7 separate regions of the Homo sapiens genome follow, and regions 1, 2, 3, 5, 6 and 7 are each linked to region 4. Evidence: fine-mapped expression QTL. A gene starts in region 4. Each other region holds a variant in brackets. All regions are shown on one strand. Distances are between the middles of the regions. Region 1 overlaps LINC01115 (long intergenic non-protein coding RNA 1115). Region 2 overlaps LOC105373358 (a long non-coding RNA gene). Region 3 overlaps LOC105373358 (a long non-coding RNA gene). Region 4 holds the start of TMEM18 (transmembrane protein 18). Region 5 overlaps LALTOP (lung cancer associated lncRNA targeting TOP2A). Region 6 has its middle 21 kb from the start of TMEM18-DT. Region 7 has its middle 44 kb from the start of LINC01874.

What was found. PIP is the estimated chance that this variant, and not a neighbour inherited with it, causes the effect.
Region 1: its variant is fine-mapped to the expression of TMEM18 in gastroesophageal junction (GTEx, PIP 0.99).
Region 2: its variant is fine-mapped to the expression of TMEM18 in thyroid (GTEx, PIP above 0.99). The same link has a PIP of 0.9 or more in aorta, esophagus muscle, lung, pancreas, spleen and testis.
Region 3: its variant is fine-mapped to the expression of TMEM18 in prefrontal cortex (GTEx, PIP above 0.99).
Region 5: its variant is fine-mapped to the expression of TMEM18 in tibial artery (GTEx, PIP above 0.99).
Region 6: its variant is fine-mapped to the expression of TMEM18 in prefrontal cortex (GTEx, PIP above 0.99).
Region 7: its variant is fine-mapped to the expression of TMEM18 in skeletal muscle (GTEx, PIP 0.98).

The regions. Positions count from the first base shown.
Region 1 is chr2:795,884-800,224 of GRCh38, reverse strand. The region is part of intron 2 of LINC01115 (long intergenic non-protein coding RNA 1115); the gene reads left to right. Among named protein-coding and RNA genes, the nearest start is that of LINC01115, 70 kb to the left of the region's middle. The variant A/G (reference allele first, on the strand shown) is at 2,251.
Region 2 is chr2:707,477-711,817 of GRCh38, reverse strand. All of the region lies in intron 2 of LOC105373358 (a long non-coding RNA gene), which reads left to right. Among named protein-coding and RNA genes, the nearest start is that of TMEM18, 32 kb to the right of the region's middle. The variant T/C (reference allele first, on the strand shown) is at 1,791.
Region 3 is chr2:714,332-718,672 of GRCh38, reverse strand. The region is part of intron 1 of LOC105373358 (a long non-coding RNA gene); the gene reads left to right. Among named protein-coding and RNA genes, the nearest start is that of TMEM18, 39 kb to the right of the region's middle. The variant A/G (reference allele first, on the strand shown) is at 2,232.
Region 4 is chr2:675,633-679,973 of GRCh38, reverse strand. TMEM18 (transmembrane protein 18) reads left to right here and starts at 2,568. Exons shown (of 5, transcript NM_152834.4): 1 at 2,568-2,685. The coding sequence starts at 2,629. TMEM18-DT (TMEM18 divergent transcript) reads right to left here and starts at 2,602. Exons shown (of 3, transcript NR_183417.1): 1 at 2,501-2,602. RefSeq lists enhancers at 2,426-2,495, 2,526-2,625, 2,528-3,293 and a silencer at 2,786-3,035.
Region 5 is chr2:1,606,915-1,611,255 of GRCh38, reverse strand. The region is part of intron 4 of LALTOP (lung cancer associated lncRNA targeting TOP2A); the gene reads left to right. Among named protein-coding and RNA genes, the nearest start is that of LALTOP, 16 kb to the left of the region's middle. The variant C/A (reference allele first, on the strand shown) is at 1,852.
Region 6 is chr2:653,994-658,334 of GRCh38, reverse strand. No RefSeq gene overlaps it. Among named protein-coding and RNA genes, the nearest start is that of TMEM18-DT, 21 kb to the left of the region's middle. The variant T/C (reference allele first, on the strand shown) is at 2,182.
Region 7 is chr2:446,875-451,215 of GRCh38, reverse strand. No RefSeq gene overlaps it. Among named protein-coding and RNA genes, the nearest start is that of LINC01874, 44 kb to the left of the region's middle. The variant C/G (reference allele first, on the strand shown) is at 2,166.

The DNA.
Region 1 (4,341 bases), 120 kb before region 4:
AGTCTGCCCGTTCTCAGATCTCCAGCTGCGTACTGGGAGAACCACTGCTCTCTTCAAAGCTGTCAGACAGGGACATTTAAGTCTGCAGAGGTTACTGCTGTCTTTTTGTTTGTCTGTGCCCTGCCCCCAGAGGTGGAGCCTACAGAGGCAGGCAGGCCTCCTTGAGCTGTGGTGGGCTCCACCCAGTTTGAGCTTCCGGGCTGCTTTGTTTACCTAAGCAAGCCTGGGCAATGGCGGGCGCCCCTCCCCCAGCCTCGCTGCCGCCTTGCAGTTTGATCTCAGACTGCTGTGCTAGCAATCAGTGAGACTCCGTGGGCGTAGGACCCTCCGAGCCAGGTGCGGGATATAATCTCGTTGTGCGCCTTTTTTTAAGCCCGTCGGAAAAGCGCAATATTCGGGTGGGAGTGACCCGATTTTCCAGGTGCAGTCTGTCACCTCTTTCTTTGACTAGGAAAGGGAACTCCCTGACCCCTTGCGCTTCCCGAGTGAGGCAATGCCTCGCCCTGCTTTGGCTCGCGCACGGTGCGCGCACCCACTGACCTGCGCCCACTGTCTGGCACTCCCTAGTGAGATGAACCCGGTACCTCAGATGGAAATGCAGAAATCACCCGTCTTCTGCGTGGCTCACGCTGGGAGCTGCAGACTGGAGCTGTTCCTATTCGGCCATCTTGGCTCCTCCCCCCTATTTTATTTTATTTATTTATTTTTTAATTTTTACCTAAAACTTAGAAACAATCCTATTCAACTAAATAACTTATAAAAATTAGTAAATAGCAAAATAAATTCCTTTAGTTTTCAAAAGGTTTCTCTTTAATTATCAGTGCTTTATGCAGTTGAATAACACAAATGTTAGCATGGCGGGGACAAGAAAAATAAACCCTGGCCCGGAATACTTCAGAGTTGGATTTCGAACTTAGAGAAAAAGCATGGTATTAACAAGCCCTGTCATCTGCAGCAAAGAATATGGTTGTGGTTTTAACAAAAGATTAGTTAAATCATTTACTCACAGTTTATGCCATAATAAACTGTTTTCGAATCAAATATTTAAATGTAAAATCTAAAACTATATAAGCACCAAAAAACATGAAGATATTTTCTTATGGTTTCAGAATGAGAAATGTTTCCAAGTATTACTATAAGTAGAACAATTAAAATTTATAATTTGATCAATATTTTAAAAGTGTCATGGTTCCAAGGAAATGGACAAATCATGAAATTCGTTGCTATCATAAAGCACATTTTTTAAATGATTAAATGGATTCTACAATTCAGTAATAAAAATACCAATAATCCGACTGAAAAAATGGCCAAAAGATGAGACAATAAACAGAGTACAAATGCTCTAAAGGATGCTTAATTTAATTAAAAATAAGAAAACTATTGAAATCATGAATTATGATTTTTGATTTCTGCCTCTAGGATTAGGAATAATTGGATCATTAAGAATGTGGAAAGATGTGTGCTCTCTTCCACATTGCTGGTAGAATTGCAAACCAGCTTAGCATTTATAAAAAGCATTTGAAAATTAGACACTAAAGATAAAACGCTCCTACTCTTTTGACCTGATAATTTGATATCTTAAATTTTATTAGATATATGTTATCACATATGTATAAAGTATATAGATTGATGTATTAAAAAATAATTAAATACCTTATAAGTAATTCAATAAGGCATTGCTTAAATAAACAAGGCCGTACCTACTCAATGGAAAATAACATTTCTTTTCAAAAGAATGATAAGCTCTATACTAGTAAGGCATAATCTTCAAGATATATGGTTAAGTGATAAAACCTGATTTTAGATTGTGTGCATCATGTGTTTTTGTGTGTATAAGAATTAAAGTTGGAAAACATTAGCAGAATATAAATAATACGTTATAAGCAACATATAATAGACAGTGCACAATGTAGGTCACGATGATACAGGAGGGGCAGGAAAGGGCTGGGTAGAGAAGGGCAGGCTCCCAGTGAGGGCTCCACCCTCGGGCCTGTGTCCATGGACCTAAGTGAGAGCAGGCACTTCTGTTTTCCCACCTGAATGTTGCATTTCCAAGACCACTCTGGCCTGCCACACCCCCCATCCTGTGCCCATATAAACCCGAGACCTTAGCAGGCAGACACACAAACTGCTGAATGTCAAGAGAAGTGGCAGAGAGCAGCAGAGAGCGGTGGAGAGAGGCAGAGAGCAACACTGTGGCCCGGCAGAGAAGGAGGGAAGAGGCACCTGAACACCAAGAGGAGTTCACTG[A/G]CAACAGCCAAACTCCAGGAGAAGATGATCTCCCCCGCTCCTCCACCTTCCAGCTCCCCGTCCATCTGCTGAGAGCCACCTTCACCACTCAACAGAACCCTGCACTCATCCTTCGATCCTGCTTGTGATTCGATTCTTCCAGGACGCTAGACAAGAGCTCGGGATACAGAAGGCTGTCCCATTGGCTCTCTGCCCTTGTGATAAGGCAGAAGGTCTGCTGAGCTGGTTAACACTCAAGCCATGTACAGGCAGCCAAGCTGAGAGAGCTCTGTGACACGGGGGTTGCACGCACTCACCTCTAGAAACTACTGCAGGGCCAAGAGCCCAAAGTCCTTGCCCCAGCTTCTGCCCCTGCCCCTCTGCATGCTCCTGCTAGGGGTTTGAGCTGCAAGGTGGCCAAACAGGTGAGCCACACTCCTGTAGTATGTCCTGCGAGGGGAATTCAGAGAATTCTCCAGTTTCAACAATATGCTGTATCATACAGTGTGTAACATACAACAGGTGTAATGCAGAACATGTAGCATGCACTGTGCACTGTGTGCGTGGGACATCTTCCTGTCTATAAACGGGACTATATATATACACACATATATGTATACATGTAGCATGCACTGTGCACTGTGTGTGTGCAGGGGCACCTTCCTGTCTATGAACAGGGGAATATATATATAAACACACATATATACATGTAGTATGCACTGTGCACTGTGTGTGTGCAGGGGCACCTCCCTGTCTATAAACAGGGGACTACACACACACACACACACACACACACACACACATATACATGGATGCTATTTGCTGTTATTTGTTGCACATGGATGGACTGTTTCTGGGATCATCCAGAAGACACAGAAAAAGCAATTAACTTCAGACAGGGAGTTCTGTTGCTGGGTGAACAAGTAGACAAGGTGGGATTTTACTTACTTATTTTTTATTTTAAATTTTGAACCAATTAAACACACTCAAATACATTCAAACATTAAAACAGTCGGATTTTGAGAATTACTTCATACTGGGCTCTGTAGGAACAGTCAAGGCCTCCCCCTCCCTCTAGGTCATAACTGGTCTGGGCTCAACACCAACTCATCAGGTGAGAAGGAGCCAGAAACAGCCGGATGGGTGCAGGCAGCTGCAGGGGGCCTGGCTCACTCACCCAGGTTCACAGCCTCAGGGGCTGTGTGGGGCTGTCACCCCAGCAGCCGGGTTCCAGAGCCCCACTCTAGATGTACCCCACCCAACTCAAAGGCAAGCACACCTTCCTGGGGGTGCAGCTGGCACTGTCAGCCGTATGGAGCCTCAAGCTACTTCCAAGGGGAGCCCATGACCCTTGATTCCTTAAAAAAAAAAAAAGGAATGATTTTCCTTATTCCAGGCACGTCTTTCCTAATAGTGGAGCAGAGAGAGTGCCGCTGCGCTGAATCCCGGACGGAGTGGCGTCCATGTTCACGTTCCACGCAACGTAATATTGACTCACCAGACTGAAGTCCCCACTACAGCAGCCGGCCCCGGCAGAGCTTTCAAGGAAGGTTGTAGGGGCTGGTGTTTCCCACAGCTGCTGGGCTGCTCGCTTCCCGGGATCCCTGGGTAGTGGTAGGGATGCGTGGCTGTGCAAAGTCTTCCAGGCGGGAAGAGAGCAGCCAGGATCCCGCAGCGCAGTGCAGGATGCGGCCTCAGGACTGCCTGGAGTCAGGCCTTGTGCGGGAGCAGGGAGGGTGCCCAAGGCCTGTTCCCAGGGGCCTGAGGGAGTGGAGGGCCCCCACTCCTGGGTGTCAAATCAAGTGTGGCCTAAAGCTGCCTCCTTACATATTTTAAGTTCGGCCTAGAGGTTTCTCTGTACGTGGTGAGCTATAACCTAAGCGGAGTTGTACACAGACTGTAGCCTATACTTGCGCCAATCACCGAGATTTGGCCACTCAGACGTAGCCGGTTGTTTGAACCCTGTTAAAATAAGGCAAATGCGGGCTGTAATCAGTCCAGCTGTCTCTGTCCCTCACGTCCGTTTCTGTCTGTTACTTTCCCTTCCCTGTCCATAAATCTTCCTCCCCGACGCGGCTGCGCTGGAGTCTCTGAGCCTCCTCCGGCTGGGAA
Region 2 (4,341 bases), 32 kb before region 4:
TTAGGTGTCCTGGGGAAATGGAAAGAGTTCTGGGGACAGAAATTACCAAGCCCAACTCAAGAAGAAATACAAATCTGAACAGACCTATAAGGAGTAAAGAAATCGATTCAGTCTTCAAAAATTCCTCAATAAACAAAAGGCCAGGACCAGATGGTTTTATTGGCTAGTTCTAGAAAACATTGAAATAATTAATACCAATCCTCAAACAAAGTAATCTCCTTCCAAAATACACGCAAGGAGAGAACACTTCCTAACCCATCTTGTGAAGCCATCATTACCCCAACACCAAAGCCAGACAAGACACAACAGGAAAAGAAAACTGCCAACCAGTGTCTCTTATGAATGTAAACACTCGGAAACTCTACAACAAAGGCAGCAACCCAAGTTCAACAACATGTTAAAGGGATTTTACACCCTGCACAAGTGCGACAGATGCCAGAAATGCAAGTGTGGTTCAGCCTCAGAAAATCGATGAATGTAACACATTACATTAAGAAAAGAAGGAAAAAATTATCTTGATGCAGAAAAAACATTTGACAAAATTCAATATTATAAAAACACTCAGCTAACCACGGGGAAGGAGGTCTCTCTTCCTTGGCCCAAAAATGTCCTTTTGGGGCTGTGAAAGTATAGATACAACCACCTGGGACACAAGCTGATAGTTGCTGAAGCTGGAGTTAAACACACAGGAGTTCACTATGCTTCTGTCTACTCCCATGTTCTTGAAATTTTCTGTCATAAATGCTTACATCATCACTTGTAAAAGGTACATTACTTTGACTACTTTCATCAGAATAACAGGTCTTTATATTCTCAGTATACCTAAATCATCACAGGACAAATTTGCCTTCCATTCTATGTCATGTCATTTAGCAAAATGTACATTAAGTGCCAGTCTTTGGGCTAATGCATAAGCAATGTGTGAGAACACTGTCTTAGTGAATTTGAGCTTCTCTAAGAAAATTCCATAAACGTGGTGGCCTCTAATAACAGAAACCTATTCTCCCAGTTCTGGAGGCTGGAGGTTCGAGATCGAGATGGTGGTGGATCTGCTGTCAGGTGAGGGCTGCTTTCCAGTTCCCGGACGGTGCCTTTTTCCTGTGTCCTCACACAGCAGAAGGGACAGGGGAGCTCTCTGGGTCCCTTTCATAAGGGCACTAATCTTATCATGATGATTCATGAGGCTCCACCAGCAAAACCTCATCACCTCCTAAAGCTCCCACCTCCTAATACCATCACTTTGGCCATTAGGTTTCCAACTGTGGATTTGGGGGACACGTTCAGTCTATGGCAGGTACACATGGAGATGATTCTTGAATCTGAGCTTCAATCTATTAGGGTAGAAAAAAAGCAATGAAAATATGATATAAAATATACTTCATACACACACACAAACTTTCATACCCAGTAAGACAGCTAATATTTAAAAATGTACAGACAAAACATATAATGACAAGCGTTTGTTGGGTTGTGGAGGAATCAGAACAATTAAGCATTCATGGTAGAAATATAATACTGTGCAGTCACCAAGAGAACTGTGTAAAGAGGAATATAATATAGTCCAGTCACTGTAGAGAGTTGTATGGAGAGGAATATAACATAGTTGGTCACTGCTGGGAACTGTATGGAGGGGAATATAATATAGTGTGTTCACTGTAGGGAACTCTGTGGAGAGGAATATAATATAGTGTGGTCACTATAGGAAACTGTATGGAGAGGAATATAATATAGTTGGTCACTGTAGAGAACTGTATGGAGAGGAGTATAATATAGTTGGTCACTGTAGGGAA[T/C]TGTATGGAGAGGAATATAATATAGTTAGTCACTGTGGAGAACTGTATGGAGAGAAATATAATATAGTTGGTCACTGTAAGGAACTGTATAGGGAGGAATATAATATAGTTGGTCACTGTGGAGAACTGTATGGAGAGGAATATAATATAATGTGGTCACTGTAGGAAACTGTATGGAGAGGAATATAATATAGTTGGTCACGGTAGGAAACTGTATGGAGAGGAATATAATATAGTTGGTCACTGTAGAGAACTGTGTGAAGACTCAAAAAACTAAACAGAATTACCATATGATCAGCAATTCCACTTTTGGGTATATTCCAACAAATAGCAATGGAAACCAAAGGCTGGGATTCAGATAGGAGGGATCCGTGCACCACTGCTTCTGGCAGCACCACGCAGAGTAGTGGAAATGTGGCATCAACCCAGGAGCCATCGCTGGATGAACGGGTAAACACGGTGTGGGGCGCACAGATGGTGAAATGTTATCCAGCCTTAAAAAGCACGGAAATGCTGGCACATGCTTCCACATGGATTCAACCCAAAAACATCGAAAACATTATGCCAAGTCACAAAAAGACAAACGCTGCAGGATTTCACTTCTGCGAGGAATCTACAGCAGTGAAGTTTCTAGAGACTGAGGGTAAAGCGAGGGCTTCCGGGCTGGGGGGTGGGCAGGGGGCGCTGTCGTTTAACTCGTTTAATGGGTGCGGAGTTTCCGGGGAAGAAGAAGGTGGAAGGTTCTGGAGATGGAAGAGGTGTCCGCGGTACCACAGCGTGAATGTGGTTATTGTCACTGAACGGTGCACTTCAAAATTGTTAAAATGGCAAGTGTTGTGTGTATTTTACACGACAGTGTGTATAAAAATACAGCGTGGAATCTGCTGATGGTAAAGGAATGCCCAGGGCTGCACGGGAAGGAGGAACATGAAGACGCCTCAGAACAAACAGTGCCACTGAGATAACACAGCAGGAGGGCCAGCGCCGTCTGTTAGAAAGACCGAGTCAGGAAGGGAGGAAAGAGGGATTTCCATCCAGAGCCACGACACACAGCCCCGTATCTCTCCAGCGGGGCTCAGCCACGGGCGGGGCGAGGCCAGAGGTGCTGTCTCCATTCCAGGCTTTGCTCAGGGGACATGGCCCTGTCTTGCTCTGTGGGTTCCCTGCACCGTCTCCCCTCAAATCCCCCAGCCCGTGGCTCATCACCTCAACTTGGCTTTCGGCACCGTGCCAGGCGCTGCTTATGCTGTGGTCGTTCCCACCCGTGATTTGCAGTTAGCAAACGCTGACTGGCCTCTCCCCATCACCCTGGAGGAGGCTTGGAGATTCCTGCCTGCCCGGGAAACCAGGAGCAGCTCTCAGGCAGGACTCGGAGCTCAGTCCGGGTTTTTCCTTTGCGGCCTGGTTTGCGTGTGAGACGCGTGTGTGCACCCACTCAGGGCTCACAGTGTGCACCCACCCACTCAGGGCTAATGCAGGCTCTGCGTGGGGGACCCAGACGAGGAAGCTCTTCCCCGGAGGACTCCCATTGTTCCTACAAGATAACAGAAGCCCCTAAGCTGCAAAAGTGAGATTCAAGGCCAGGTCAGAATGAGTTTAAATGATGTCCTTTCCACCACTAGTTTTCAAGAACTGAGCATTCTGTGATCCATGAATGAACAGCTTGTAATACAGGCACGTAAATATTTGGGCCTGTTGAAGGGACCCGCACCTTAAGCGTATGTATCTATGCATACACATATCTTTAACGGGATGATTAATGCTCTAGTTATCAGGCATGAAATAGCCTTAGATTTTGTGTTTTCATCAGCATTTTAGAAACTTTATGTTGTATTTATCATTAGAAATCATGATGCCAAACTATCCTTATGAAATGAACTATCCTTTTGAAATCTAATTACTATTTGTCAAATTGCTTCAGCAACACTGAAGATGTAATTATTAGAATCACATATTGGAAAAAATATGTGATTGCAAAGAGATAGGACAAAGGGTTGCTGAGGTAGCTGAAGGCAGAAAGGTCACTGCTGTTTTCTCAAGTCTTGCCCATAGACTGAAAATGTTGGAAAAGAACACATTTCATTCTGGCTAGTATCAGCCGACATCCTGATGTCAGGAGAAATACGCTTTTAAGTTTGATGCTATTTAGCTTTTCAGCAGACAAACTCCTTCAAAAGCATTCGAAGGTTCAGCACACGTACTGAATTTTAGATACCTCTCAAAACTGTCTGAAAAATAAATCTGTTTTTCTATGATAAGATTCAGCTGGTGATTTGTTAAACAATGTTTCAGGGGCTGAATTTCTGCCACATTAAACATGATGTTTCCCTTGTTATCTAAAATGTCTTTAAGAAATTCCACTATCAGTTTATAAATTTCTCAGCTAGGCCATTGAATGAATCAGAGAAATTAAATGATCCTTCACTCTGTTGAGAAAAGAAAACCTTTGGGTACGATTGAGTTCAGAAAGTATCTGTCTCCTCAAATTTTCTTCTAAATATGTTTTGAAAAAGTAAAAATGTAGCATGAAAGAGCTAATGTAAAAATAAAG
Region 3 (4,341 bases), 39 kb before region 4:
TAATGTTGCTTGACAGAAGCCAGAAGCAAGATAATACATATGATAACATAAGATATGTATTCATATGAAATTCAAAATAGAAGTGAAATGAATCTTCAGAACAGGTTGTGGTGATGTTTGCTCCCAGGGCTGCTGGCTGGGAGGGAGCAGGGATCAGCCTTTGTGGTAGATGTGTTTAGTATCTATACCCAGGTAGTGTGCACACAGTTGTGTATATGGGGAAAATCCACTGAGCTTCATGTTTGAAATTTGTGGTCATTGCTTTATGTAAATGATACTTCAATATATAGAAAACTAAAATTAAAGATAAGGCATCCTTAATGTAATGCCATAGAATGGTGACACATAGAACAACTAGGGCATGATAACTATGTTTCATTAATTTTTCATATTTCTCTCATCATAATACATAATGATTTCATGGCATTTCATTTTATGCATATGCCATAACATTTTTGATAATTGCCTGTTCTTGAATATTTAGTTTATTTCTAATATTTCATTTCCAATAGTTTCTCTAAATAAACACTTGATCAATTGTCGCCTCTGTTACAAAATCTCACCGTACATGGTTTTTTTTTTTTTTTTTTTTGAGGCAAGGTCTCACTCTGTCAGCTAGGCTGGAGTGCAGTGGTGTGATCACAACTCACTGTAGCCTCGACCTCCTGGGTTCAAGCGATCCTCCCGCCTCAGCCTCCTGAGAAGCTGGGATGTCAGGAGCACGCCGCCATGCCTGGCTATTTTTTTCTTATTTTTGTAGAAACAGAGTCTCATTATGTTGCTTAGGTTGGCATGCTTATTCTTTTGGTAAAATGCCTGGTTGTTAAATTGCTGAGCACATGGTAGGAACCATGCTAAAGTTGTTCTAATGCATTCAAAATGTCTTCTATCAAAATTGTGTACTAATTTATGTTCCAGCATGACAGCCCCTGAAGCATTCTGATTATGGAGACTCTGTTCCTCTCCCCACCACACAAGCTCTTTTCATCTTCCACTTTTCAGTTTCCAGTATCACATGTGGGTCACTTACTTGGCCCACCCACATAGGTATTAATAATGTATTTATGGCCCCAACTTTTCCTAAAGGGCTCATATTTAATGTCCAACCACGTGGATGACGTTCACCAGCTGACACCGGAGGGGGTTGATGTTGACGCCTCTTATTTCTCTTCCTCCTCCTCATCCTCTTCCTTGTCTTGCCCCTTCGTGTTGCTATGGCAAAATAATATTCAAGGCAGTGTGACCTTGTGAAGTAACCAATATAATAAATCGGGCTGAAAAATCCAATCTAATTTATAGATGACCAATCAATGCACACATACTTTTCAAGCAAACATTTATAACTCTCTTCAATGAGAAAAGTTTTTTTGGCAAAAAAACCTTTGGCAAAAATTTAATAATGTTCATATTCACTTCATTTTCCTGAAGAAATAAAGGTCATAAGCATTCCCACAATATATCCCTGAGCCTACTGCTGGTAATAAATCAGTATTCTGGTAAGTCTCCAAACTTCTAAACCATAGAATAGACCAAGATTTAGGATTGAAAATAAGTTTTTCCATTGCATTTTGAAAAAAATAATTCACACGTGCAAGGATGGCATAGAAGGCCTTTGTGACAGAGCCACTGTTTAATCCCCAGCCTCATCTCCATGACCAGGGCCTGCTGCCCCTCCACCACCCAACACACCCACCCCAGCAGCCACTTCAGTGTCCTGGTGTCTTCTTGGGATGGTCTGCCCCTTCCACCCTCTATCCCACACCTGTCGCCTCTTCATTTGTAGAAGGAGTTATTTCAGGCCCCACCTAGAATAACCTTCTTCAGGAACCCCTTCCCACCCCAAGGCCTCCCCTCCTCCTCCCCTCATCCCCAGGGCTCACTGACCTCTGTGCAGCTGTCCCATCCCTGTCATCGTGGCTGTACTGTGGGGGCCCAGCCACGAAGTCAGCCTCACTGGCCCCACGGACCCTGCCGCTTCAGAGACCCTCACACGGAGGAGATTTGTCTCTAAAAAGACGTGGAGAGCTCCCTCCTGAAACTGCTTTTGAGCTGCCTCTAAGGAGCAATGTGACCTTGATCAAAGGGCTGCCTTGGCCTCTAGAAAGGAGGAGTGTGGAACTGAGGAGGCCTAAATCCCCTTCCCCGTGTCATGGTTTCCAAGGAGGACGAACAAGCTCCCCCCACACCCTTAACCCTGCTGCGTGTCCCCCACGCTGTACCTCGGTGTCACC[A/G]CGTTTGAAAGACAGCGTAGATCTGCCTGCAATCACACAGGCTTCTGCTGACGCTGGCCTAAAAGTGATCACAGCGGCAGTCCCGACCCGATCCGCCGGCCCCAGCTTTCACAGCTTCAGCACTTGACGGCTTCACGAGGGATCCCATTAAGCTGTTGCTGCATGATAGATACCCAATATATTTTTACCAAATGAGTCAATTTGAATAATAATCTAGACTTGAGGTTAAATGAAAGCACAGAAAGGGTCAAGAATTATTAAAAGAACAGTTATCAAATGTTATAGAAATTCACCATTCAAGGAACGGGGGAGGTGGGAGAAAAGGTGCAGAATCCTTGTAAGTCTTTTTAGGACTGAAAGTCGAGAAAGCTAAAGTGAGGTGGTCATGCATCCATCTAGTGGCCAGGCTCAGTAACAGGAAAATTCCCCTCAGTCCCTACAGCAAGGTGATTCTCAGGGAAATCATTGGGTTCCTGAATCCCACGAATAATCAGTGATGGCTAGGTTATTTTTCTAATTATTGATTATTACAATAGTAACAAAAATTAGTTAATAGAGAATAAATCTAAGTAAGTTGAAAAGATATAAACAAATGATTAAAGGAAAATTATGCATTCCTTAATCGTGTTTTGAAATAAAAGCTAAAATAAAATACACCATGATCATTGTTCCCTATGGATTAATAGTTTATAATATATTTTACTCGGCTCACAAATGTGCCAAGCAAGACCGAGGAAGGCCAGACACTTTGCCTGAAGCCACACAGGAGCTTAAGGAACTCACGCAGGGTCAAGTAAAAAAGCAATGGAGCTGGGATCCAAAGCCAGAATTAGGCAACTTACACCACCAACTCGGGGGTTTGATGTAATAAGAGACGAGGTTAAGTTGAGTTTATTTATTATGCTTCACATGCTTCCAGCTGCATCTGAAAGGTGAGGGTGCATGGGATGGAAGAGGATCTAGCGGGTGGACGTGATCACAGCAGCTGCATCTGGAAGGCGAGGGTGCATGGGATGGAAGCAGATCTGGTGGGTGGAGGTGAGGACTACTGCAGCTGCATCTGGAAGGTGAGGGTGCATGAGATGGAAGATCTGGTGAGTGGACATGAGCATCCTGGGTATACTGAGTAAACTCAGCCAAGGATGCACTGCAGGAGGTGAGGAAGCTGACTGTGGTTTGGACGTGGTTTGCCATCTCCACCAAGTTCCATGTGAAACGTGATCCTCAATGTGTTAGTGTTTGGAGGTGGGGCCTGGTGGGAGGTGTTTACATCCTGGCAGGAGGTGTTTATGTCCTGGGACTGAATCCTTCTTTGTGAGGTATTGAGTGTGGCTTCACTCTCAGAGACTGGACTGGCTCCCACTGGAACTGTTGTTACAAGGTGCAGATTCTCCTTCTGCTTGGTCCTCTCCACATCTGTTCACTTCTCCTCTGACCTTCTCCATCATGTTATGACCCAGCTCAGAAACCCTCACAGGGAGCCAAGGCCAGGCCCTTGAACTTCTCAACCTGCAGAACAGTGAGCTAAATAAACATTTTTTCTTATAAATTACCCAGTCTCAGGTAATTCTCTTATAGTCACACAACAGGGAGATGGAACACGCCTGACGGGCCTGCCTCTGTGCCAGAGCAAGGTTTGGGCAGCTCGGGCCACCTGCACAGCCATGCAACCAGGGTCCCTTGAGCATGCAGGCAGGCCCTGAGGATGAAGTGTTGACAGAGACCAGCGACTTCTGTCTTTGGCCTTGAACAATTTCTCACCCTGGGTCCTCATTTCTTCTCTACAAATTCCCCTGGTACTGTGTTCACTTACTGCCCTGACCATGCTCCTCCAACCATTAAACCGCTACCCAGCTGGTTTCCCCTAAGCAATCTGGGGTTTATTCTCTGCTTTGCAGAATCCTTGATGTCCAGCGATGCTTCCGGTTCTCCTTCTTCTGGGCACCTGTTAAAACTGCACTCTTCTGCCCCCTTGAGGTTGTGCCGGGGCATTTGACTTGCCTTAGCCAGTGAAAAGTGAACTCTGCCATCGCTGGGAAGAAACCAGCAAGAGCCGAGTTCTTTGTCTCATCAGAGACACCAGACACGTTCTAGACCTTTGCAGTCCAGT
Region 4 (4,341 bases):
AACTTATTTTACCCATTAATAAAGCTCTTGAAAACCAATTGTATGTGGATTAAATAGCTATTTTAGAAATAAACAAAATTGGGCCAGGCGTGGTGGCTCACGCCTGTAATCCCAGCACTTTGGGAGGCCAAGGCAGGCGGATCATCTGATGTCAGGAGTTCGAGACCAGCCTGGCCAACATGGTGAAACCCCGTGTCTACTAAAAATACAAAATTAGCCTGGCATGGTGGCACACGCCGGTGATCCCAGCTACTCGGAAGGCTGAGGCAGGGAGAATCGCTTGAACCCAGGAGGCAGAGGTTGCAGTGAGCCGAGACCCTGCCACTGCACTCCAGCCTAGGCAACAAGAGCAAAACGCAAAAAAAAAAAAAAAAAAAAAAAAAAAAGGAAAGGGAAGAGAAGAGAAGGGTGGCGAGGGAAGGGGAAGGGAGGGGAGGGGCTTCATCCAGTCTTTTCTGGAAGCACAAAATTCCAGGTAAATGGAATAGAGTCCATGTCAGCATTCACATACCAACAGAGAGAGCAGGCCATGTTCTACTGGCCACATTAAAATAGCAAAGAGAAAGAGATTAATTTTATTGATATATTTTATTTGGTCCAGTATGTCCAAAATATAATTTCAACATGTAAGCAAAATAATACAATTGTTGATAATGTATTTTACATTTTGGTACAAAGTCTTTGAAAGATGGTGTATGTTTGAAATTAAAGCACATCTCAGACTGGCGACATTGCACAAGCTTCACGTCTAAATGTCCGGCAGCCTAGCGTTGTTCAGAACGGCAGGGCGGGAGGAATGTGGAAGATGAATGTCCTGGGACTGAAAGTGAAGCTGCTGAGGGCCAGAGTTTTAACAATTTTGGAAACTTGGGTGCCAGGGCGCACAATATATGAAAGATCTGGGAGGGCGGCTGAGGGGAAGATGAAGAGAAAAAATCCCAGTGACCGTAGATAGGCTGTGGTTAATATTAATAGCAAAAAGAGTTTGACCCCAAATTACAGAAGTTACAAGAAAACAGACACCACAAAAGAAAGGCAGGCACCAGACAGGACTGACGATGAAACTAACCCATGGAAATTAATAAGAGTGATGTTTCACATAGTAACGAAATATCATCAGGGAGATACACAGTAACAGGCTGAACTGAAGAGGACAGATCTATTCCCTGTAACTGAAAGGTCCTGTTGAAAATAGCTGAACAAACACAGGGGAGTGAGAATGGACACAGATGAAAACCATCACACCAGCTGGGTGCGGTGGCTCATGCCTGTAATCCCAGCACTTTGGGAGGCCCAGGCGGGTAAATCACTTGAGGTCAGGAGTTCAAAACTAGCCTGGCCAACATGGTGAAACCCCGTCTCTACTAAAAATACAAAAAAAATTAGCCAGGTGAGGTGGCGAACACCTGTAATCCCAGCTACTCGGGAGGCTGAGGCAGGAGAATAGCTTGAACCCAGGAGGCGGAGGTTGCAGTGAGCCGAGGTCCCACCATTGTGCTCCAGCCTGGGCGACAGAGCGAGACATCGTCTTAAAAAAAAAAAAAAAAAACCAGGAAAGCCAAGCCCGAGATTTCCCAAACTCAGCAACAACAGTCGTGATGTTTTGAGAGGAAGGTTGAGAAACACAAAAGAGAGGAAGATGCACTATCTACCTAACGGGATGTTCCTGGAGTTGAATACAGGAAGAATAGAGAAAAATATCAATGAAAGAAATGTTTTCCCATAAGAAGAAACCATGACCTTCTACACTGAAATGAGAGAATGCATGTTAAGTAGCATAAGCAGAAATGACCACACTGTGGAAAGATTTTAAGAAAGATCTGGGAGGGGTTAAAGCTATTAAAAAAAAAAAAAAGTCCACCACTAGAACTATTTTTAGAAACATTAAACTAGTTCAAGAGCTAACATATGCAATTAAAGTATATACACTTAATAATTCATGATGTTAAAATAACAGAATGTTTAATTTGAAAATGTCAAAGTTGGGGTATAGATGTTAAAATAAAGGGAAAAAATTCGCTGGAAGAAAATTAACTTTATATTTTTGTATCTGTCGTTGAACAACGAAGTGAAGCGTAAGAACATCTGGTAAATCTCCAAAGTGAAGACAGATAACCCTAAGCTGACCCAGACTAAGAGTGCACTGCCCTTAGGGTCGCGAGAGCAGACACCTTCCCAAGTCCTGCAGGGTCCGAGGAGTGGGCAATGTCCCCGGCTCCTGCAGGGTCTCGGGGCGGACACCGTCCTCATTGATGCTCTGACCCTTCTAGGGAGTCCCAGGTGGGACAGGGCTGGCGTGGCGGTACAGCGCCCTGAGCCTTTGAAACAAACCTCCTAAATTCCACCCGCCTCCGCCTGCTCCTCTGTTAACGAACTAAAGACGCCCTCGGCCTCCTGGCGGAGCGAGCACAAGTCCCACAGCAGCGTAGTAAGTTTTCCGTATTACAGCGACCACCAGGAAATATCGCGATATCTGGACCTAGCAATGCCATGAAATTACCGCGAGAGGAAGCAAGCGCAAGTTTCGTGAGAAGGGCAGATCTCACGAGAGAGGATTTGGCGCCCTCCTCTGTGGATTCTGGCCAGGCCGGGTTCGGCGGTTGCTGTGAGAGCGGGCTTCCCAACACCATGCCGTCCGCCTTCTCTGTCAGCTCTTTCCCCGTCAGCATCCCAGCCGTGCTCACGGTAACTCGCGGCCCGCGTAACCACCAGTTCGGGGGAGGACGGCGGAGAGGCGTAGGGTAGGCCCCACAGAGCACCCGGCCTGTGGCCAAGAAGGCCCCGGCCGTGGGCGGGGCCTTGTGGCGGAGCGCGCGCGCTGGGCAGGGTCCTGAGACCTGTGGGAGTGGCTCGGGGCCGGCGTCGGGGGCGCGCGCTGTGGGCGGGGTCCTGGGCCCTGTGGGAGGGGGCCGGGGCCGGGCGTCGGGGCGCGAGCGCTAGGCGGGGTCCTGGGCCGTTGGGCGGGGAGGGGCGGGGCCGGGCGGGGCCTTGTGGAGGAGCGTGCGCAGTGAGCTGGCTCCGGCGCTCTGTGGCCCGGGCTTGGGCTGGGCTGGCGTCCTGCACCGTGCGGGCGTGGCTGAGTTGTGTGGGCGGAGCGCGAGGGGTAGGGCTTTGTTCGTGTGGGAGGTGCACGCCGGCCAGTCCAGCGTCTTGCGGGCGGGGCTTGGGCCATGTGGGCGGATTCTGGCAGTGCGGCGGGGCGTGCGTGGTGGAGCCTGATCGTGTGGGGTGGCACGGAGGAACGCTGCCCAGTGTGGGCGGGGCGTGCGCCGTGCCGGGTTCGTCTGACAGATCCCAGGGGAGCCCACGCCCCACGTGGCCGCCAAGGGGTGACATGGGCACTCGATGGGGTCTGGGCAGAAAGCCGTGCTCCCCTCACCTCCGTGCCTCTGGTCTTCTGGTGGGTGCATTGATGGGAGTAGATGCGCTTGTGTCCTTATGTCATGGCGCGGCTCTGGAGAAGCCGCTGCGGTCCCCAGCAGAGAGTAGTGACACAGGAGTTCTGGAGGGCTGTGCCGGGCTGCAGCTTGGAGGGCAGGGCGGGGCTGCAGCTTGGAGGGCAGGGCGGGGCTGCAGCTTGGAGGGCAGGGCTTGTCTTCTGCAGGAGGGCGCTCAAGGAGGGGATGGGGAGGGTTGAGGACTGCTGGGATTGGCATCTGAGCATCAGGTGGGGACTGAGCAGCAGTGGATCTGAGCCTGGCTACTTCAGGTCCCTGAGCCAGACACTGTCCCCAGGTACAGCAGGGTCCCGGGGAGTCCAGGAGGCGGCGGAGTGCGGCACTGTCTGGAGAGTTCAGTGTATTGCAGAGAGGTTGGAGAAAATCAAGTCTTGCACGTGGCGATGGCTCAAGATTCCCTGAGGTCTTCAGTGCTGACTAAGGAGTCTGAAATGATGATTCATGTTTTACCTTTGGGGCTGAGCCAAGTGCATCTCTTTGAGCAATCGTCTTAATTTCCTTGTCGTCACCAATTATCATAACCAATTATCATCGTAAAGGATGGTAATTCCTTTAATTATACCCACCTTAAAAACATGATTCTGTTCCACAAACGAAAGGAGCACATCAGAGATGCCTTCAGTTCTGTGTGCTTGAACTTTGAATTCCATGAATTATAGTTGCACTGAGGGGAGAATCCTGTTTCCATCCTCCTGGTTCCTTCTCCCTTTCCTGTCCCCATGTTTCTCTGAGGCCTGGCAATGCTCTCTGGATACTTGGTGAGTAGCCCAGGAGGACTCAGGAGTGAGAGGCCCCTGCCTCCTGCGCTGGGAGAAGGCTGTGGGTGGGCCGTGAACCCGGCCTTGAGTGGCAGGACAGTGAGTGTCTGCTGGTGTGTTCCTAC
Region 5 (4,341 bases), 930 kb before region 4:
AGGAGGCAGCTGGGGACCCTGCTCGTTCGATGGGCTCCTGGCCTCATCCTATCTCCTCTCCAGTAACAGGAGGCAGCTGGGGACCCTTCTCATTCGGTGGGCTCCTGGCCTCATCTTTCTTCCTTCCCAGTAACAGGAGGCAGCTGGGGACCCTGCTCGTTCGATGGGATCCTGGCCTCATGCTTCCTCCTCCCCAGTAACAGGAGGCAGCTGGGGACCCTGCTCGTTCGATGGGCTCCTGGCCTCATCCTACCTCCTCTCCAGTAACAGGAGGCAGCTGGGGCACCCTGCTCATTCGATGGGCTCCTGGCCTCATCCTTCCTCATCCCCAGTAACAGGAGGCAGCTGGGGCATCCTGCTCATTCGGTGGGCTCTGGGCCTCATCCTTCCCCCTCCCCAGTAACAGGAGGCAGCTGGGGACCCTGCTCATTCGGTGGGGTTCATCAGAGAAGAGTTCCATCTCTGTTTCTCCTCTCTGGATGGTAGGAGGCAAATATCATGAATACAGGTCACCTCTGTGGACCCAAGCTGCCCTTCAGGTGGACTGTCCCAGGATCTAGACTGAGGGACGCAGGGTGGAGGAAGGGAATTCTAACACACTCACCAGGCAACCAGGAAGAAGCCATTTTCTTCGCTATCAATTGTCGGTAATAATATTACATTTCGATCTTCATTCGTGTGACTTCTGAGCTTCTGCCTCGATGGGTTTTGAACTCAGGCTTTAACTTCCCCCAGTGTTGAGGAACAGCCACATATCTCAAGGAGCAGAATCTGGGGGCCAGAACGACGCGTGCACAGACCTTTGGCTGAGTGAAGAAGCGTGACTTGAAGCCTCAGGTAGGACCATGCGGGGTTTGGATCTCGGTGGACAACTGCGGTTGTGATGCTCAGTGGCGGCTGCACTGCAGGGGCCAGCGGGTGTCCAGCTGTGGCGGCTCGGCTGTGGCGGGCTGTACTGCAGGGGCCAGCGGGTGTCCAGCTGTGGTGGCTCGGCTGTGACAGGCTGCACTGCAGGGGCCGGCGGGTGTCCAGCTGTGGCGGCTCAGCTGTGACAGGCTGCACTGCAGGGGCCAGTGGGTGTCCAGTTGTGATGGCTCAGCTATGGCGGGCTGCATTATATGGGGCCAGTGGGTGTCCAGTTGTGGTGGCTCAGCTGTGGCAGGCTGCATTATAGGGGCCAGCAGGTGTCCAGTTGTGATGGCCCAGCTGTGGCAGGCTGCATTATATGGGGCCAGTGGGTGTCCAGTTGTGGTGGCCCAGCTGTGGCGGGCTGCACTGGAGGGGCCAGCGGATGTCCTGTGCTTTGGGGACAGGGTGGCTGTAGCAGATGGGCGTGGTCTGGAGCATCAGTAAATAAGGCACTCCGGCGAGCCTCAGCAGGCACAGCTGAGCAACGTTAGGAAAGAACCACTTCCTCCGTCTCTCTGACATTCACAGGTTACAAAAAAAATAGCTACTTTTACTGTGTTTCTTAGCCAGTAAGCATATAATTTAAAATTCAAAGAAAGCAGGTTTCCATCTGTTCCACATTTCGCGTTAAAACTGAAAGCACAATTACATTTAGTGGAGGTATGATTTGAGTGACTGGATTTCTCTCTAGAAACCGGCACATGAAGGTGCAGCTTGAAAGTGTTAGGAGACTGTCAACAACAACAACAAAATCCATCTGACGAAGGCAAAATACATTTAGTTCCAGATGACCTTAGCAAAATACAGAGAATTTGTCACTAACAGACCCGGCCTAGTGAAAGTCTTCATATGGAACTTGTTCAGCATGAGTGAAAAGAGTGCCAGGGCAAACTTGGATATTTAGGAATGAGGAAAGAGAAGTGGAAACAGTAAATATCAGAA[C/A]AAATATAAAAGACTACTTCTTTTTCTCTTAGTTATTTAAAATTTGTGAGCGTGGAAAGGAACATTCATACTGTTTGGCGTGGTTTTCAATATACACAGATGTAAAACACCTGACATCCATGACAGGAAGGTCACTGAGGAGGACTGTGGAGCTGCAGGTTTTCCACACTCTACAGGAAGTGGTGTCCGATTAATTCCAAGCCAACTGTGAAAGATGACATGTGTCTATTGCAATAATTAGAGCAGCTGTTAAAAGAATGATTCAAAGAGATACAGCAAAATGCAATATAAATTTAGATGGGATACTAAAAAGATTTAATCTGAAAGACAGAGGAACAAAAGCAGAACAGACACACAGAAAAAAATGGTAATTTTAAACCAAATTGTATCCACGATGACATTATATTAATTAATAATTACACATTGTATATTAAAAATAATTTAAAAGGAGACTGAGCGAATAAAAACAACCCCAGTATTGTTTTCAAGAGTCATGCTTTAAAATTAAAGATACACATAGGTAGAAGTTCAATAGATGGCAAAAATCATACCATGGAAACATTGAGCACAGAAGACTGGATGGCTATGTTAATACCAGATAAAACAGACTGAATACAAATAATATTACCAGAGACAAAGAAGGACATTTCATAGTAATAAAAGGAAAAATTATCAGGAAGGCATAAGTTACCAGTGTGTAATTATGATTACATGAATTAAAGGGAGAAATAGACTTTTTCACAAAGCAGAAGACTTTAATACTCCTCTCTCGGCAATTGATAAAATAACTAGAAAAAAAATTAAGACCTAGATGATCTTCAAGTACTGCCAATTCCCGTGATCCAATCAGCATCCATGTGACACTGCACCCAACAACTGCACATGTGGTTTTCCAGGGCACATGGGGCATTCGCCCAGGGGATGGGTGTCATCCTGCGGAAGGAGAGGAAGGGCAGTTGTGAGGCTGGAAGCTGTGGCAGGTGCATTTGCAAGTGCTTTCTACGAAGGCAATGGTGAGAAGATGATGAGTGCCCTTTACCTGGACTGGGAATCTTTATTCCGAGTTGAGATGGAACTGGATCTGTGTTCAGAGCAGAGTTGGCCTGAACTTGTCTCTGAGAAGTGGTTCAAGGCAGGGCTGCTTTTGCATCTGTGTTACTAATCATCCCCTCTCCATTATCGGACATAAACTAGGGAAGGATAAGAATCATTCAATGAGTCAAACTCTTGACTCACCTTCCCCAGCTGAAAAGCACCACCGTGCAGAAGTGGTGTCTCCAAGGGTGGAGGCAGGGAGGGAGAATGTTTCCTGTTAAAATTCCCCAGAAGTACTTTTTCGTGCCCATGGGCTTGGGTTTTACCTTCCAAGATTATGACATGCCCGATGGCCGAGAGCCTGCTTGTGCTGGGAAAGAAAGGATCTTGGTGTTCTGATTATTCTTCCTAATGATGGTTCTAAATCAAACCCTAATGGCTGTATTTCTGCCAGACTGAGGGGAAGTATTTTAGATCAGTGCTACTCAACTTTATTGCACTTAGAAATCAATAACATCTAACATCTGCAGATCTCAAAAATGAATGTGGCCTCAACTATCAGCAACACTCAGTCCCTGGACAAACCAGAAGACTGGCCAAGCAGCTCTGGTGCATTCTCACTGCTCCCTTCCTCTCTGCCTGCCCAGACTCCTACACACTGCACCTGCATCTGGATTGGTCCACAGGGAACTTCCGTGGGTTGAGAGAACCCTGCTGTTGTGGGCACAGGATGTGAGGCCACAGGGGTCTTTTCTGTTGCTTTTGGTGGCTGGGGTGACCTCAGAGCCCATCCTCATCTTTCCTGTCCTTCATGGTCAACCCCAAGGGCCTCTCTCCCCAAAATTTCCTTCATTCCCTCTCTGGGAAAGGTCTCTGCCTGCTGTGAGCATTCTCGGACTTGCTCTGCCCTCCTTGGGGTTCCTTCTGATATGCCTTGGTTTCCCTCCCTGCCCTCTACCACCTGGATCTCTGCGAAGAATGCCTGGCCTGAGTCCTCCTCGAGCCGGGGTGCCCAGTTCCGCCAGGCTGTGTCCTGGCAGCTACACTTCAGTCTTCCCCTATTCTCAGTCCAGGTTGCTATGGTGGGGATGTTCGCCCCTGCTATGCCTCCAGGAAGAGCACATCACCAAAGGTGGTTCAAGTTTTTATCCAGGATTTTTTGGGGAAGTCTTAGGAAGCAGAAGACCCCTGTCTACTGGGACAGCCAACACTCAGGTTAACGTGCATGTGGATCTGCTGGGAGCCAACGTGTGGAGAGGGGTCTTGTGCGGAAGGTGAAGGCAATGAGGATGAGAGTAGGAAAGAGAGCCGGAAGGAGCAGAAAGGTGGAGGGGAGAAGCTGGTGCAGATGTGGGGCTAGAGATGGGAAAGAGATGGCAAACTTCAGAGAGAGAGAGGAGCGAGGGAGAAAGGAAGAGAGTCTGGGACCTACAGACACACTTTGAACATCTGGAC
Region 6 (4,341 bases), 22 kb after region 4:
GTTACAACAACTGCACTAAGCAATAATGATAACTAGCAATTCAAAGCTTATGTCTCAATTGAAATGTAGATGATAATCCACACACCATTTCAGAAAAAATAATATGTTTCCATCATAAAACATGGAGGTTTAGTAAGAATAGTGCTTTAAGTTAATAATAATTTCTTAGACATTTACAGAGATCTATACACTAATGATTAATTTTATCTAACTAGTTCCACTCTGTTTGTTGAGAACACCTCTATTTCTAAAAATATTCCTGTAGTTGGTTTCTGGAAAAGCCCGTGGAAGGCGCCTACATCCCCAAGGCAGCTCCTAGTGCTGTTGATGTGGCGCCCTGGCACGTGGTCACCCAGTTGCAATCTCTCCTGTGGGCCATCGGATCTAAGTTATGCAAGCTGTAGGTGTTTACCCAGGAAGGTTTTCAGCAAGGCCTGTAGAGACCCAGCGGCCAGCAGGGAGGTGACCCAGATCCTCCCTGCAGCACCAGCCATGTGGTCCATAGAGGAGGCTGTTGAGAAATACAGAGAAAGGAAGATGAAAAATGTGGGTTTATTAAAATTCTGTTGATAAAGTGAGAAGATTCAGTACATATTGAATGTAATTACAATAGGATAGAACAAGAAGAATTAGAGAGAGACTATATTTGCAAAAAAATGAGTAAACAATTTGATTACAAAAGCATGCTGTCTATCAAGCAGAATAAATACAAAACAAAGATACATCTGGACATACTGGAGTAAAATTGAGAATAACCAGTCTAAACGTAAAATATGTAAGACAGAGAGAAAACTTTGGCACTGTCTAATAAGAATGACAATTCGGTAGACTGCAGACCTCCAAAAGCAATACTAAAAGTTAAGAGAAGTTTGGAATAATCCCTTAAAATGCTGATAGAAAATAATTGTCAACCTGGATGTGTGTGCCCTGTAAAATTATATTTCATGAATAAGAACAAATTTAAAACATTTCAGCTGAAGAAAATTGGGAGGGTTTACTACACACAGACTCCCTGAAGAAACTACTAAGAGATGTCCTCCTTTTACCAGGTGATAGTAAAAGAAGTAAGAAGTTATGGAAGAAAATGAATTGGTTATTTGTTTAAATCTAAAACACATTACAGAAAATTATGATGATTGTGACATTAATGATATTATAATAATAACATGCATTTGAGAGAGAGAGAGAAAGATAAAGTACTGGACAGCAGTAACCGATAATTCAGGAGAACACAATTGAACATAATCTAATTGTTCAAGCTCTTTATTCTTTACTTTTTAGGAGAAGACTACAGATATTGCTATGGGCTGGATCGTGTGCTCTCAGAATTTATACGTCCATTCCTAGCCACCAGTGGGACTGTATTTGGTGGTGGCTCCAATAAGGAGATCATCAGGGTAGAAGGAGGTCACCGGGCGGGGCATGGTCCCATCAGGCTGGTGTTCTGATAAGAGGAGACACCACTGAGCTCTCGACTTAGAAGAACACAAGGAGAAACCCTCACAGGAAACAAATTGGGTGCCTCCTTCCTGCCCTGATCTTCAGTGCCCAGCCTCCACAACTGTGAGAAAATAAATTTTTGGTGTTTAAGCCCCTCAGTTTGTGGTGTTTGTTAGAGCAGTCTGAGTTAAGACAGATACTAATTAACTTCAGGCCTTGTTAAGTAACTATTAAAGAAATATGAATGTAGTATATAACCATCAAATCTGTAGAGACAAGAAAACAGAAAAAGAAAACAATCCAAAATAAGATAAGAAAGAAAAAAACTTAAAAAATAAATACATATATATATAAAATAATGTTTTAAATAAAATTTAAAAATAAAAACATACACACAAAACCAAGTCCATTATTTAAGTTTATTGTGGCAAACTTGATTCTCAAACTAGACAAGAGAAGCACAAGAAAGAACACATAGAAACTTCTATAAATGCAGATGGAAAACTTGCCTATGTTAAGAAAATGAACCCAGCTGTGTATTGAAGAGAAAACACAACATAACTCAGTTTACAATTGTGAAGAGTTCAATGGCTTCAGAAAAAAACATTTGATAAAATTCAAAACTCATGAACTGAAAAACAAAATGAACTAATCGAGCAAAAACTATTGACAAAGTAGGAAAAAAGGAAAACTTTTGTAACTTAATAAAGACTATCTAAACAGTTAAGTAATCGCAGCACT[T/C]CATCCCTAATGTGGAAAATCTAGAACATCTCCTGTTACAGACACTTAAGGCCCTCAGGTGCCTCTCACTTCCCAGCACTAAGGACACATGCATTGGGTTTTCTTATGGCTGCACCCCAGTCTTGGTACAAAATCTCTTTTACTTACTAGTACCTTGTGATGAACAACCTCAAGCCTCAGCTAATGAAAACAGCAGCAGTCACAGTGTTGCTCACAGATCTGTAACTTGGGCAGAGATCCCAGGAGACAGCTTGCCTTTGCTTCATACACTTCAGCTTGGGGCAGCAGGAAGTTTCACTTTCCACATGGACTTGCCCTTGTGACTAGCTGGTTGGTGTTGATCAGCAGCAAGGGCTGTGGGTTGGGGCCATGGCAGGGCAGGCCATACAGGCCTCCTCATGGCCTCTTGGGCTGCCTCACAACAAGGTGGCTGGTTCCAAGAACAAAAGTCTCAAGACAACAAGGTGCATCACTTTTTCATCCCATGTCATCCCACTCACAGGGGAAGTCACAAAGACTGCCTGGGACCCAGGACAGGGACACGGCACCCCATATCCTGGTAGGTGTGTCAAAGTCAGAGTCCCACTGTGAAGGAGCAAGTGTGATGAGGGCTTGTCTTGTGCCGTCTTTGGAAAATGCAATCAGCCACTGCTGATTTTTTCTGTGTGATTAATTATGTGGTTTTCTCTTGGGGGAGGAGTGTCCAGGTATATTTTAATGGTTTGACAATGTTCTACTTGCCATAGACAACACAGTGTTCATTTTTTCTTAGGCTTTATAACTTTGATGTGTAATACATATGTTCCTCTGTGAGACTCAAATACTTCACTTAGAAAATCTCATCATCTGACAACCTCCTTTGCCTGTGCAGAGCTGTGGTGAATTTTCCATCGCTCTTAGGTCCTCAGAATAAAACCCAATGCCTGCACCACGTGTATGACAACCTTTGTGACGTGGCCTCCACGGAGAGCCTCATTTTTAGGATGGTAACTTACTCAGAGTGCTGCACCCGCACTGATCCTGTAGAACAAGTGTCTTTCCTCGTAGTGGCCCCAGCAGGCTTCCGCCTCTGCTCAGAGCGTGCCTCTGGCTGAGGCTTATGTTGATCTGCTTCTGCACGGCCATCACCTCCTCAGAGGGGACTTCCTGGGCCCCCATCTAAAGTGTCACCCACTCATCTCCACCCAGAAGCCCCACTTTATATTATATTACAGAAGTTTTATCTAAACTCATTCTGCTCCCTGATGAACTCGCTTGCACTTCCTTAAATGCACACTGGAAGGTGTGCATCCCGAGGGCAGAGCCTGTCCTCCCTGTGCCCCAGTGCTGGGAGCCATGTTTACATCAGAAACCTCCTGGGAAGTGGTTTTGAGTGAACCATTTCATCACAACAACCCTGTAAGGTAAATGATATTATTTCCATATTTTAGATGAAAAAAGAGATTTCCAGAAAAATGAAAAATTCTGCAGTCCACAGTGATGTTGGTATGGGATCTGGAGCTGTCGTGGCCCAAAGCCAGAGTCCTTTTCTCCTTCCTGACTCAGTGCTGTCAATCTCTGATGTCAGAAGAGCGAGCACCGAAGACAGAAAACAGCGTCCTACACTCAGCGGCAAGGAGAGTTTGAGGAACACACAAGGAGATCTGGAAGCCCGTGGTGTTGCCTCCTCACCAGGAGGCCATGGTGGTCTTGGGAGGTGCCCATGCTCTACTCTGTGTGCCAGCTGAGCAGGAAGTGGACAGAGAAGCAAGGTTGGGTCACATTCTCTGTGTAGAGTGTTTCTCCTTCTCATCATATGTTTATATACTTGGAGGGGATGGGTGGAGATTTCTTGCACGCATGGATTGTGTGGTGGTGAAGGTGGGGCAGCTGTCACCCGAATAGTGAGCATCATATCCCACAGGCAATTCCCCAGCCCTCAGCTACTCCCCACCTCCCACCTTCTCCAGTGTCTGTGCATCCGCTCTGCACATCCACATGTGTTCCCACCTTCTCCGGTGTCTGTGTGTCCGCTCTGCACGTACACATGTGTAAAGAACTTGACACTGCGACCCGGTCAGGAGACAGCGGCAGGTGTGTGAGGCACGAAGCCAGGAGGAGCCGGGGCTGCAGCACAGCAGGGAAATAATAAATTTGTGCTGGAAAAGGGTGCTTGGGAGG
Region 7 (4,341 bases), 230 kb after region 4:
GATGATTTTCTAGTTTTTAAAATAATTTTTAATAAATATGCTAATTGATCATCAATAATCATAACAACATATATTATCAAAAAGGTAAAAAGAAAAATAATGCATGGGGTACTATTTTGGGTGGCTATTACAAAGCAAAAATCATTATGGAGGGTGACGGTTCAAGAGTCACTAGCAAGGAAAATTAGTACAAATTCTCACTTTTCAGACTAATTTCAGAGCTCAATTTAATGAATGAAAAGACTAGATAAAACACTAAATGTAAAGAATACGAACTAGAGTTGAATTTAGTGGCCACCTAGCACAGTGGCCTTTGATTGCACACGAGGCCAACAGCGTTTGCCTGACTTGGGAGATCGATCATGGAGTCCCCAGCCAGCACATGGAGTCCCCAGGTGTCCCAGCTCCACGTCTGGTGCCCGTGCAGTTACACCTGGGTGCTCCGGGCAGCCTGACCACCAGTCTCAGCCCAGATTGCAACCACAGCCATCGCAGACTCCCAGAATCGGAATAGCAAGAAGTTGCAGGCCCCAGGACAGTTCTGTCACTGAGTGGGGGTGTTTGCTGAGAAGCATGCTCAGGCTGTATCTGTGCCAACAGGAGAGCTCCAGGTGTGCAGTGTCTATGAAATCTGCAGTTTTCTGGAACGACATGAACCAAATGTATTTTAAAAGAAAGTCCCGCCTTTGAAATTATTGAAAACATATGGTACTTAAAGTTAAGTGCATTCAGCAGTAGAAAGAAATGTGACAAATATTTTCACAATAAAAGCAATTGAAAATGTTTTATAAGTTTTTAATCTATAGTTAAAGTGTTAAGGTAGTAATAGTCTGATTTGTAGTAATATATTATTTTCAGGCCTCCATCACTCTTTACGAAATGTATGCCAAGAACAAAATAAAATTATGTTTTGAACTACCAATACAAATAAAAATAATTCTATGTAGAAAGGAAACTCTAAAGGGGGCAGTTTTTCTTAACCGACTGTTTCACAACTGGACACCCTAGATTCTATGTTGTCGATGGTGACCGCCTTGGAGGGGCCACCGCTGAAGTGGAGCCTCAGAGGCAAAGCCACCTGCTCTGTGTCATCCTCCAGCACCCAGATTCAACAGCAATCCTCCCCACTCTTCTAGTGGGAAGCAGGCAGAGAATAGAGACCTGGAATGTCTGTCTTCATTAGCAGTGAAGACCTGCCCTCCAATCATAAGATTTGGAAGACTTGAAGTTACCTAGGAGCACAGTCACTTTAGCAGAGGCTTTGGACCACCAATGGGAATGCTAGCACTGCTCCAAGTTTGCTTTTCCACCTAGAGCTGATTACACACACCTCAGCCATCCACACATTCATGCACTGAACAAATACTTACCAAATGCCAAATTTATGCCAAGCATTGCTGATATGCAAGTAAAGAAAGCAAATTTTTTTCCCTACACAAATGGAGAAGGCCAACAGCCCATAATGAATAAGGCAGTGGCAGTGCAGCCTCCATGGGCTGCAAGGTGTCGGGTGTCATCAGCCGGAAGCCGCCTGGCCTTCCCTCTCCCGCAGACTGCTGCCAATGACAAACAGAAATACTGTAAATGTGGAGATTCACTCATGGGGAAGTGTTCAAGAGTAATTTTAAGGCTATCCTTTCAGTTCTATAGAAACTGTACATCTGATCAAAACAAAAATGTTGGCAGTACCAGGAGAACCATCAGTGGGCATGTTTCCTTGCCAAGGACTGGCTCAGACCCAAAGCCAGGGCAGTCTGGCCCTCAGGGTCTTGCAATTTGCTCTTGCACAAGCTAGAGGGACCTCTGCTGATGACGGTGTCCCCTCCCATGATAAGAATCATGACCATTCAGACGAACAAGTCTCATTATTTAAGCACAGAGGGCTAGTGTTGCTTTTTTTTTTTTAATTATACTTTTAAGTTTTAGGGTACATGTGCACAACCTGCAGGTTTTACCTTCAGCAAAGGAAATGGACACCATTTGGCCTATGGGCTATGAACCAGACACCATTTGGCCTATAGGCTATGAACCGAGACACCCAGCTGTAGGCTGTGAAATGATTGAGGGTAACAACCACTGATCCCTGTGTTGCTAGTACTGGGCATGATCATTATATATAGAAATATCACAATAAATGTTTTATATGAATAAATTAATATGCAAAT[C/G]CCAAATCACATGTCCAGTTACACCAGATCAAAATTCAGTGTGTTAACATTTATTCCCAAATGGGGTATTTGGCCATGAAAATATATTTCTTTGAAAAATAATTGCAAGCTTTGGCTTTCAACACGGACCCATTATATAAATGGAGAAAAACGAGGGTATATAAGTTGCATCAACACTGAAGCAACTGACAATGGTCCATGCAACAGCACCCAGGAAATATAGTGGAAATTGATCATGTAACGCTATGCTAAAAATCCATATCCCAGAGCTGCATTCTGGGGCCAGCACTTCATTTTAAAAGTGAGATAAACGAGAAAAATGTTCTCTTATCAGCCTAAAATCATATTATCTTAATGTCATTTCCATTTCCACTCCGAGACATAGCAACTATCTTCTGCACATTAATAACATAATAACATACCAAATGCAAATGAGGTCTTCGTTCAATGTCCAACAGAGACAATAACACATTAAAGCCACCCTGTGGGTAGTAATTAAAAGAATGAGAATCTGATTCATCGGGGTGACGGCATGAGTTAATTACCCCACGCTCTTTAGCATAACTCAAGTTGAATATCAGGGAGGGGCAATCCCTGGATCTGGGCTCTTAATACCCACTGGTATTGGTGAAGGAGGTTAACGTGTGATCTGCTGGGCAGGGAAGGAGCTGGAAGTTGAGAACCACAATGAGACCCACAGCAGAATTTTATCACTCTTTGGCAGATGAGGCTCAGAAAAACTAAATTACAGACCACAGGGTCACGACTATAAAGAGCAAGCATTGTTTGTCTTTCTGTAAAAGGGTTTTTCAATCAAAATTATGGTGTAATTTGGCACTGAATCTCTGATAAATGAAAACCATCTGAAACGAAAGCTTCTTAGACTTTTTTACCCAGCGTTTCATGAGCAGCCTCCTCCTGGGGCCTCCCGTCATCATCTTCGTGCCTGTGAAGCAGATGGCATGCCCTCTCTTTCAACTTGCCGGCCATTTTCCATTTGCAAGTGACAGGCAGGACTTAGGCAATTTTTACGCATAGTGGATATTTGACAATGGACTTGTAAAGGCCCACTTGACGCTCTTGCTGCTGGACGCAGAGTGAACCCTGAGTTTACATGGACATTTGTCATTGTTCTTAGAGGATACTTAGGACACCCAACACCTGCCACAAGGTCCAGGTCCATAGTAAGGGCAAGCTCAGATGAGTGGCCCAGTCATCCCACTGCTCCTAACAGCACTGCCCTCCCCTGCCTGTTAAGGCAGAGCCCGGGTGTGGCTGTGTCTGCACTGGTGGTGGGTGAGGTGCCAGGCTTTGTGTCTCCTGCAAATGGACAGGCTGTGAGACCTGACACAGTGGCTTCGGGACACCAGTGGCATCTCCCAAGGTTGGCAAGCTGGCCCTGAGTCCACTCCTACTTGGTTGCAGGAATCAAGGAAGGGCCCTCCAAGATAGAGTCAGCCCAGAACCGGAAATGCTTCCTAAAGAGCCGCAGCATCACGAAGGGAACCAAGTGGCCACTCGAGGACAGCAATCTAGGAGAACTGAAGGGAAGAAAGAGAAACACGAAACAGCACGAAATTGGAGGTGAAAGACAACAAATCTGTCCCAGGCCAGTGGTCTGGCTTCGCCACAGTGACACGGTTAGGGCCTCTGTTCAGTTCAGCCACCAGCTGTGCCTGGGGAAAGGCTTAGCTGTCAGCTCACAAATGAACAGCATGTTATCAGTTACTTGTAATTAATGGTGAACTTTTAACCTAAACAATCAGTAAAAGCCAGTTAACTGCTGTGCGTGTGGTTCCTGGCCACCACCTTGCTAGTGCTCCCCATGTCTGAGTGGGGCAGGTGCCAGCCCTGAAGGACGTTCACAGGGTCTCTGACCTGCCGCTCCTAGGAGGTCACAAGGGACCAAGGGAGGGGCTCCGACCTGAACGGAGCAACGGCTGCTGGTTCCTCTTCAACAATCACATTTATTTTTCACCAGTTTTGCATTTCCTAAGTACATATACATTTTTTAACAGATTTCAGCAAATGACCCAGGATTGTTACACTGATTTTAAAAAACTGTTACTTTTAACACTTTTGTTTTTTTATGATTCTAGTGTAATGTTTTCAACTTTGGCTGTAAAAACTGATAAAAATTAAAAAGTTTCAAATGGCACGACTGTAATACATCACA